Linked DNA regions of Homo sapiens: region 2 is linked to region 1. Evidence: fine-mapped expression QTL. A gene starts in region 1. The other region holds a variant in brackets. All regions are shown on one strand. Distances are from middle to middle. Region 1 holds the start of MAFTRR (MAF transcriptional regulator RNA). Region 2 overlaps LOC105371356 (a long non-coding RNA gene).

Region 1 (5,379 bases):
ATCAGTAGGACTCCAACGTTCCCACTCCCTGATTATGGAAGCAGTGAAAAATGTGTTGATTTTATTCTTTTGGTGAGCTGTACACCCACCTAGCAAGACCAGGCCTAAACATATGGTCCCAATTTCTTGTCTCAAGGGAAAGACCAGTGTTCTTAGAGAAGCTAATTTTTACCAGTCTCCATAAAAAGTAATTTCCCATCCATGGAAAGTGGATTGGCCTGAACAGGCTCTGTTAACTGTTCTCAGGGCAGATGCGAAGCCCAGCAGAGGGCACTTGCCTGTGCTAGCTCTACTTCTATCTACTCTCATCTCCAACTTCTACCCTCTGTCTATCTATGAGACCTCACAGGTCTGTTCCTCTATGAAGCCTGTCTTGATTGCTCTAATTGGGTTTAAGTCCCTTTAGCGTATGTTGTCACTGTGTCATGAACATACATCTTTGTAGTAGTGTTAAGCTGGGGTTTGTGAAAGTTTGGGTATTATTTCTCCCACTTGACTGTAAGCCCTGTCTGTGTTGGCTCCCTATATCCCAGCGTCTAGCAGAGAGGCAGAACACACTCCACAGGAATACTTGCAGAAGGGAGAAAGAATGCTTGTGAGGCTGTTGGCTGAAAAGAAAACTGAAAGCAGGAGAGACAAACCATTGTGTGGATAGGCGTCTCACTGCACCGGGCAAAGCCGGGCAAACAGAGGGAGTGGAGGGTTACAACAGGAGGGATTTAGGACAGTGTTCAGGAAGAAAGCTGCTTTGCAAACATCCTTTAAAATTCAGGGCTGCCTAAAGAGTTACAGTGCGATCCCAGGGAAAACAGCCAGCAATTATATCAGCCTCTGCAAACAGAATAATCTGCTTTGCTCCAATCCCGATTTTTATTTTCCATAGGTTTTAAAGAAAAGTTAGAAGATAAACTTTACGGCGAAAGATTATAGGCAGGGTTCTGGCTAGGCTTTTTAAGCTAGGGGGATTTAAGGAAAGGAGACAGTACTCTCTCTCTGAGACCAAGTGAGTCTCTGGGGATGGGTGGAGTCGAAAACCTCTCCCTTGCTGGGCGATACTGTCTTGTGTTGACGTTCAAAAATATCTCCTTTAAGTTATCAAAAGAACCATCTCTTAGGTGCTGTCTGTTAGGGTAGGAGGTGGGCATGCCTAGGTCTTCTCCTGCTGCGAAGGGAAGAAGGAAGCTAGCTGGGGCCTTTCTGCTGAGCCTTTTAGACAATAGCACAGTGAGTACAGACACGTTTCCCTTGACTGCCAGGCTCAGAGCAAGGGCGAGGGTGGCACACAGGCATCTGCTAAGCAGAAAAATGTCATGCCAGGGGCTTCTTCACCAGCCAACCCTGTTCCTAGCTGGCAGGCCACTTCCCAGGCAGTTTCCAAACAACAAAACAGAAGGGATTTCATTTCTCACTTCATTTTTTTTTTTTTGGCTTCTGTATTCCCAGTCCCTACATTCTGAATAAACAACCTTTTGTTGTAAATGGATAACTTGTAAGCCATAGGCACTCAGGGAGAGCAAAGAAGCTAGCTAAGGTGTGGGGAGGGGGAGGAAGAATCTGTGCTCCAAGACTGGGCCTGCCTACTGTGTTGTTATGTGTCTGGGCTACATGTGTCTCCATGTCTCCGCGTCCTCACCTGGAAAGAGGGATAATTCTGCATGCCATATTGACAACCACAATGGTGAAGATGAATTAGAAGGAGGCACCTTGAAAAAAAGAAAAAAGGAAACTGTATAAGAAAAAAAGCCCCACACAGTTTTAAATATGCTCAACTTGATAATTCTTCATAAAATTAGAATCACAGTGACTTCCAGTATGCAGCTGAGTTCACGTGAAGTCTGCAGTCACTTGTTAGAGAAATGCTTTTACGGAATTGCTTCACCAAGCAGAGAACTGGCTCTGCTGTCTCACAGATGTGGGAAGTGACCAGCTTTGATCAGAGTAGCCTTGATCCAGTCACTTTCCTCTCTGAGTTGTGGTTCCCACATTAGTTGAGGGGAAGCTGCCGAGGTGGATGTGTGTTGCAGGATGAAGATAAGATGTTCCCCAAACACACAGAACATGGGTCTTTTCTACTCATTCCAGGATTATTGAGGAAGATCCACCTAAGATGCAAGTGTTAAATACAGTGATGGGGCAGGATGGGCCAAGGGTGATAAACATGCTCATTCTGAGAATTGGTAGTTATGCATAGGACTGCATAAGGCTGGCATAGCCCTGGCGATGTAGGTTCTACTGAGACCTATCCCCAGATGGGGGCCATAACCACATGGGCAGTTGTACAGCCATGCAACCACACCAGTAAGTGGATAGAACCAAGAGCTCCAAAGTTACACAGACAGTTTCCAGTCCTGCTTCTGCCTCCCCTGCTCAGTGCCTCTGTTTACCCATGGGCACACCAAGCTCTAAATAGGATTAAGCATGGCAACTACTCAACACAGTATCTGGTAGAAACCCCTCAGAAACGATAGTATTATTAACAATATTATTACTAACCCTAAGTACCTGGGGCTGCATATATCTCAGCTCTCTTTTCCTCCTGGGCAATTTCCATTTTCTAAACCGAGGTCCTGCTTTTTCAGCAAGGAAACTGTGCTAAATGCTCCCGCATCAGCGTGTGTGTGTGTGTCTCTCTCTAGGGGCTGGGGGCTCAAGTGTTGAAGTTGGTTCAGCGTGTGTGTGTGTTTGTGCACGTGTATGGGTGTGTGTAAGGGCTGGGGGCTCAAGCATTGGCGGTAGCTCAGCGTGTGTGCGTGTGTGCGTGTGTTCAAGGGCTGGGGGCTCAATTGTGAGAGGTGGCCCAGGGGCCGGTTAGAGACTGGGAAGGACGACAGAGGCAAGACACGCAGCGAGTGCTCTCGCGAGAGTTCACCGAGTTGATAAAATTATTAAAACACAAAATACACATTTGCGTGAGGGGGAAAAAATACCCGCTTGTCCGTCCTGTCCCTTCAGGCTGCGCAACGCTGGAGGGCGATGGGAGCTCCACACAGGTGGGACGAGCCTAGCAGGTAAACCTTCCACCGGCCCGAGCTCCGCGACGCCGCGCCCCCAGCCCCGCCCCGCCTTAAAAAAAAAAAAAAAAAAGAAGAAGAGAAAGAGCCGCCGGGAGAAGCGCGGACGCCGCCGCTTCCCGGGCTCCAGCCGCGGCCCAGAAGAGGAGGAGCCCAGACGCCCTTCGCGCGCCATTGGTCCATCCGCCTAGCAACAGCCGCGGCCGGACCAATGGGAGCCGCGAAGCGGCCGGCCCCGCTCCAGAAACTTGGCTGCGGAGAAGTTCGCTGTCCCAGCCAGGAAAACAAACCAAGAGACCCTTCACACCCCAGCCCTAAGTTTTCTTTCTTACCCTGCCTACCCTCCCCCTTTCCCTTTGCAACTTGTCACCATTCCCAGCTCATGCATGCTTTAGTCGCCAAATTCTGACGCGGACGGAGGGCCTTTTCAGAAGGTCATCTCTTCCCACCCAAAGGAGAAGTCTCATTAGAGGCAAAAGAACGGACAGGTTGAAAACGATTTGTCAGGTTTCCGAATCTCTCTTGGTCTTCAATTACAATAGCCTCACTTTTAATATATAGTGTGTTTTTGTTTGAACTGATCTGCAAGATCTGTGCCCAAAATGAAGGGCAATTTGGAACATTTATTATGTACCGGGCTTTGACCTCGAATTTTGTTTGCTTTCTATGCCTTATTGCATTTAATCCTCTAATTAATTGTAATTCGGAGAGTGGGTTGCCCTGTCTCCATTTAATAGATGGGAAATTGAAGTTCAAAATGGTGAGTGGAAGTGTCAGAGAAATTCTGTTAGTACATGGTTACACAGGATTCAAACCCAAGCCAGTCTGATTCCCAAGACACTCTGGTTTCATGATGCCAGGAACCTCTGCAAGCACTTTTCAGAAATGGCCATAAAGAAATTCTCTGACCTACCTTGTGGGTTGTAGGTCCTGCCCCATACTGGAGAGGAAGACGTGCTACATAGAGAAGCTAAGAAAAATTTGAACAGACAGGCCGTGCTGGGTTTTCTGCCTCAGTCTCTTGCTATTAGATCAGACTCTTCTTTGTCTAACCCTATTTCTACCTGGCTATCCATGCTTCATCAAACTTAAGCCCGGGTAAAAACAGATACCCGGGGTATCTATTTTTATCTGGGACTTGCGGTCTTCATTTTGAGGGCTCCCATGTCACATAAAACTATGATTGAATAGCTTTGTTATGGCTTTTCTCCTGTTAATTTCTTGTCAATTCATTCAGCAGACTTAGATTAGAGCCTTCAGAGGGAAAGTTTGAACTTTCCTAAAGAAATGGTGTATATTGCAAAAATCGAATCCAGACTCTCTCTATGTGTTATCCTCAAACCCCAGCTTGCTTTGTGGGTGTGTGACCAGCCCAAATGCACAGATTCTGTACTTAGAAGGTCTTACACTTGGTTTACTGCTCTGCTGTTGCTGTTTTGAAGTTATTAATACGATTTGAAGAAGAGGTCCCGTGTTTTCATTTTGCACTGGGTCTGCAAATTATGTAGCCGCCCCTATGAATACAGCTTATTTAAATGTCCCAGAGGAATCTCACGTTTTGAGAATGTCGAACCTCAAGGGAAGGAGGAAGGTTGTAAGCTTGCCACCCCAACCCACATCACACACACACTTAGACTTCTGCACACACCCTACAGATAGTTTTATGACACTATAACTGTAATTTGAATCTCCAGTCTATTAAATGGGAGTGTATATATTTATGGCTGTGTTTATGTGTGTGTGTGCATGCACACGTGCCTGTGAGAACTCAGAGAGGGAATAGAGGTTTGGGGCATTTACAACACACAGATACAGTCCTGATTATTGACTCTATCCTTTCACTTTGGAGACATTACAGGGGATTTGGACAGGCCCTGCTTTTATGAAATACACTCTTAGGAGGTTTTCGAGTGCCTGTAAACACTGGACTGTGAGTGAGGTTGGTGTGATGCCGGCTATCCCTGGAGGGAACAAACCTTGAATACACTTCCACTGGGCCTGGCAGAAAAGCCACATGTTCTTCCATCTGTGTTACCCTGAAATCTGAATCTTCTTTTCTAGTAAAGATTGGCCTAGTTTTTATTCTCTGGATTATGTTGATCTAATTCTCTTAGTTAAGAGATGAAATGATCAGTAAATCACCAATGGCGTGAAAGTCTGAAATAAATGAGAAGAAAGCCTGAGTGTTTCCCTGACACTTAGTTTACCAACAAAGATAATCACACTCTGTGGCAGTTGTAAGGGACTCTGACATGGCTTTGAAACCATCTCCAAATTTTGGAGCACTTTATTTGGTGTTGAGGGAAACTGAGGCCCTGAGAAATAGGCTAAGTTACTACAGGTTACACAGCTAGGTGGTAGTGATATG
Region 2 (5,379 bases), 54 kb before region 1:
GGACCACAGGCCTGGGCCTGTGTTATCCCAATGCCATCATCTCAGGATACGATGGGAGCTGCTAGGTGTAGAGATGGCTCTTCTTTGAAGAAACCCCCATGAAATGGTTTCAGGGGAGGTCACTGTGGTTATATCCCAGAAGATTTGCCCTGCAAGTGAAACAGAAGCTTCTCATGGAGATGTGGAGGGGGCTGCCCCGCTGTGTCAGAAAGTGGAGACTCTATGGAACCAACCCCATTATACTGAGATAGGGTTGAGGCTGCTGATGGGTCTTTACCTATTGTAGCTTCCATTTGTATGGTAGGCAGCCGCTAAGATGGCCCCAGATATCACTGCCTTGTGATAGTCCTGTCTTTGTGTAATCCACTCCCCATGAGTGTGGGCTGGATCTACTGGCTCTCTTCTGCTAAACAGATGATCGAAAAAGTGATGAAATGTCACTTCTAAAATTAGGTTACACAGAGAATGTGGTTTCTTTTTTGCTCACTCCCTCTTACTCAGGGAAACTAGCTACCTCTTTATGTACTGCCCTATGGAGAGGCACACATGTCAAGAAACTGAGGGAGTGCCTTCCAGTCAACAGCCAGCCAGGAACTAAGGTGCTCAGTACAGCAGCCTCCACAAAGGACTGAACAATGCCAACAGCTATTTGACTGTGCTTGGAAGATCTCCGTTTAGTTAACCCTTCAGATGAGACCGCAGCCCTGGCCAGCAAACAAATTGCAGCCTATGGAAAGACCTTAAGGCAGAAGCACCCAACTGAACCACCCGAGGGCTCTGACTTACAGAAACTGTGAGCAGTAAGTGCCTATTTTTTTAAACCACTATACTTTGGGGATGGTTTGTTACACAGTTATAGACTACTAATAGAGTTTGTTAAGTTAGTATTTTAGTCTGCTTTTTTAGCTGCAAGATAAAACTAACCCCTTCACATAAACAGTTAGATTGCAACTCTATAGGTTCCGTTTTAACTTTATAGTTAGCTACTAATGAATCTACACATAAATATTCAGATTCCCCTAACACAGAAGAGAGGCCTACTATGTGCAGCATTATGAAATGTGAATTTCTAGATATAAAGACTTTGTCTCATTCATCTCTATACCCCAAGGCCAAGACCAAACTTTATCACATCATAGCTATTTAATATTGATGGGTTGATTTAAACGATCTAATTACTGGATAGCTATTATGACCCACATTTTACTGATATAATAAGAGAAGTACCTAGAGTTTAAGTGATTCAGAGAAAGTCATGTGAGTGGAGTCAGGGCTTTTGCCCAAATTCTCAGGCTGCCATCTGTGTATCCCAGAACTTCCTTAGTGGGTAAAATAGCTCATTACTGACTAGAATGGCAATGTTTTCCTTCCATTGCAACATACTAGCTCAAAATAAGCAGGTGGCTTTTTTTAGAAAAACAGTGTTTCATTAAAGATTGTATTCCAAAAAGGCTTTGTTAACTCCTTTTTTCCCTTTAAGTATAGTGAAATGGCCTCTACCTTATTTTGAATGGATTTCTGGGATAAAGTTCTTCAGTGATAACATGTTTGAAGTAAGTAACAATTAAGTTATCTTAGTCCTCACTAATAATGTTCATAGAGCAATTGGTGTTTCTTTCTGAGTTAATAACAAACATTTGCAGCCAAACCATAGGACTCTGAAGATAAAGCAATTGGCAAGAAACGGTATGTTTAAATACCAGAAAATAGCCCATATCCAAACAGGTGTGCGATAAAACAGTATAAATAAACTGCTCTGTATGCAGTTTAGCCCAAGCAGAATTGTGTAGGAAACTTTCTTATTCTGGAAAAAATATAACCAAACCAGGCCTCTTGTATCCTCCTTAGACTGCACAGCTGGAAAAACAGTTCTTGTTCAAACAGCCGAAAGTAAAAGTTGTTTTAATTTTTTTTAATGGCCAGATAAACAAAACCTTGCTAGAGGAATGACTATACTTGTGCAAATATGGCCTTGAGCTAGAATCTTGTGAAAGACTCACCTCTTTTCAACCTTTAAGAAATATGCCTGCTTCTTTGAATTCGCGATGGTCACTTCATGTTGTGTTAGGATATTTTTTAAAAATGTTTCTGTTGGTACAGTTATCTTAACCACCTGGGTACTTGACTTGACTTACGGCATTAAGAGTATAGATGCCTAAAAGAAGTACTTGGTTTCTATTAAGATCTCCTAAGTGCACAGGAAACATGGTTTAGAGCTCAAAGAGGTTATAAAAACTGTCCATCTTTTCATGCCATTTCTTTCTGGCCAGGAACAAAGGTAAGACAAGAGGTTGGTCCATGCCAGAAAGTCTGAAAGTATGCGGGTTAAATGTTTCCAAGTGTGCTGTTTGGTGTTTGGGATCATTTGTTCTTTGCCAAGCTGTGTCTAAGGGGGGAAAAAGCAAAAACAATGGAGACGTAGCCTAAGGTTCCTGGAGATATCTGGCATTTGACATGCCTCAGTGGTGAGGAGCATTTATGGTCTAGTGAAAAGTAAGTGGTCCTCTGCATTCCACAATCCAAACCCTGGCTAAATCTCTGACCAGTAGGACAATTACCACTTCTGAGTCTCAGTTTTCCATCTCTAAAATGGTCTTCTATACACAGTTATGAAGACTACATGGAAATACATAACTTGTTAGAGGCAATAACACATGAAGATTACATGCAGTAATACACATGCAATAACATAAATAATCTTATGACGATTACATGCCCTGGAATGATTATCTATAGATACTGTGTGCAAAGTGAAATTATACCAAGTGCTATAGAAATAAAAATGGCTGAATAGAGGTCAATTGGTGTGGCAGTTAGGAGCATAGGTTCTGGGCCGGGCACAGTGGCTCATGCCTGTAATCCCAGAACTTTGGGAGGCCAGGGCAGAAGGATAGTTTGAGCTCAGGAGTTAAAGACCAGCCGGGACAACATGGCAAAATCCTGTCTCCACAAAAAAAAAAGAAAGAAAAGCTAGCCGGGCAGGGTGGTGCATGCCCACATTCCCAGCCACTTGGGAGGCTGAGGTGGGAGAATCACTTGAGCCCAGGAGGTCAAGGCGTAAGTGAGCTCTGGTAAGTGCATTAGGTTGGTGCAAAAGTAATTGCAGTTTCGGGCTCTAGTTTTAAGTGGCAGAGACCACAATTACTTTTGTGCCAACCTAATACCACTGAACTCCAGCCTGGGTGACAAAGTAAGACCATGTCTCAAAAAAAAAAAAAAAAATAGTGTAGATTCTAAGCTCAGGCTTGCTTGAAATTCTGGCTCATTTTCTTTGTATCTGAGTAGCCCTGGTGAGTCTGAATTTCCCTATCTGTAAAATGACAATAATAGCAGTACATTCTTTATTCTGTTTAAAATGAAGAGCTCAAGTGCTAGTGTGTACTCA[T/C]GTGCTTTCTTTGTGAGTTCAAGCACTCAAGACTTCAAATGGTATCTTCCAGAGCTTCTTCAGCTAGATTCTGTCCTCTTCCTCATTTGTCACTCTGCTGGCTGCTCCAGGTCGTTCCAATCTATAAATAACCATTTCAGAGCCAGACATCACTGACTAATATCTCAATCTCTAGGAACAAACATTTTGACTTGTGCCACACTCAGTGGTTCAGAATGATTGTAACCCAATTCTGACTATAACTAGAATGAGATGGAAATCCAGCATTCTACTTGGGAGCAGGATTTTCTCTAAGAAACTACAGCGGATCAGGATAAAAGTTCTCTTTTCTGTTATTCATAAAAGGCAGGGAAAGAGAGTCAGAGTTATGGCTTATGGTGTCGCAAGAATGTTCAGTATCATTTTAAGGATCTCTGTCTCGTTCTCTCTCTCTCTTGCTCTCGCTCTTGCTCTTGCTCTTGCTTTTTCTCTTCCCTTTCCCTCCCCGTGGCAAGTATTATAAATAGGCCTCCTTCTTATCTGATCCTCCCCTAAATGTTTTTCTTTTGAAAACCACAGTTAATTTTAGATAAATGTCGGAGATAATCTCAAATTTGTGTGTAATATAGGCCCTAGTTCTAAGAAAAACATGACATGTCTGGAAGACCTTGTTTTGGCCTTTGTTCCTCTGCTAGTACCACGGCCAATATCTCTGACTTCCCACCCTTTATCTGAGACTGGGTTGTATCTTAAGTCTCCTAACCCCCTTTTCCAGAAGCAGAGAAACTGCCACCTTCTGAATGGCTCCTTTCTAATCCAATAGTTCCCCAGGAATGATTTTAAAGCTAGAAAGGGGCTCCGGGGAGTGAGGGCTGAGTTCACCAACACTGCCCGCCTGAGCAATTTGCAGGATGAAGTGGCCTCTGTCCTCTGATTTTCACAGGCCAGGCCCCCTCTAGATCCATGTGTAGATAACTGCAGTCGTAAATGTTATGCGAAGGCTGCTGTACAAGCCTTTTAAATAAGAGGCTGTTTTTCAGAACCTGGGCCACATTTGTCCTGGCCTGAGTTAAGAGGTAAAGAACATTCCAATTGTGAGCTTGGATGGAAAAAAATATATTTGAAGTTTTTTCTGCTAACAAGGTATGCAGAGGACTCAAATTCCAGTAAACGAAGGTTAAAGACGGGCTGATTTGCAGAATACGGTCATCAACCCCACCCCTTAATTTTTCCATAAAGTGCCATAAAAAGCCACTGCACTAACAAACATTTTGGGAAGGAAACAAGCTCCAGGCCAAGAAGCCACAAGCTTAAATGGAGGGAAATCTGAGCCCTGAGGCACAGTTTCCTGAGCAGAGTCATTACTCAAGAAGGGATCAGGCATTAACAGAACTATCCCAACCCAGTACCAAAGCTAAGGCTTCCTGGGTGCCCTGGGACAGTGCTGGTCAGGAGAAAAGTGCCAGTGTCCCTCACTGGAGTTACACCCTTCACCTTGACTTACAATGTGAAATGAGAGCACATATCCAAGACTCAGCTTACACCTGAAAAACATCTGAAGAAAAACGTCTTGTTTTATTTAAAGGATGAAAAGAAAACGCGATGCAATGAAATTGCAAAAAAAAAAAAAACTCCAGCTGGATGTATTTTTTAAAATTTTTTGTTGTGGAACACAGAAAAATTAATGCTAAAATGGATACAGAAGAGTAAAGTCCCCCCAGAGAGCTAGGCCAACTGTGAAGAAGAGGAATATGGAGGAGGGGCTTATCCTACAAAATGTTAACCTTCTACAAAACCATCATCGTAAAATTGGTCTGCTTCTGGCTTGAGAACAGAGACCAGTGAACAGAACAGAGGCCTAGGAGACAGGCCTTTTTATAAATGAGGACTTGAAATATGTTTAACATGGCTTAAAAATCATGGGGAATGGTTAGATTATTTAGTAGATGGTATTGAGAAATTGGCTCACCATATGGAGAACAAAAACATCTATATTTCTTTTTTTTTTTGAGACG

The links.
Region 2: its variant is fine-mapped to the expression of MAFTRR in testis (GTEx, PIP above 0.99). The same link has a PIP of 0.9 or more in breast, sun-exposed skin, tibial artery, transverse colon and unexposed skin.

Annotation. Positions count from the first base shown.
Region 1 is chr16:79,767,520-79,772,898 of GRCh38, forward strand. MAFTRR (MAF transcriptional regulator RNA) reads right to left here and starts at 3,013. Exons shown (of 6, transcript NR_104663.1): 1 at 2,928-3,013; 2 at 1,634-1,703. LINC01229 (long intergenic non-protein coding RNA 1229) reads left to right here and starts at 2,952. Exons shown (of 4, transcript NR_104660.1): 1 at 2,952-3,008. RefSeq lists an enhancer at 3,053-3,102 and silencers at 3,100-3,298, 3,223-3,272.
Region 2 is chr16:79,713,335-79,718,713 of GRCh38, forward strand. It overlaps LOC105371356 (a long non-coding RNA gene), which reads left to right. Exons shown (of 5, transcript XR_001752268.2): 3 at 502-800; 4 at 1,481-1,553. Among named protein-coding and RNA genes, the nearest start is that of LINC01229, 54 kb to the right of the region's middle. RefSeq lists an enhancer at 300-429. The variant T/C (reference allele first, on the strand shown) is at 3,386.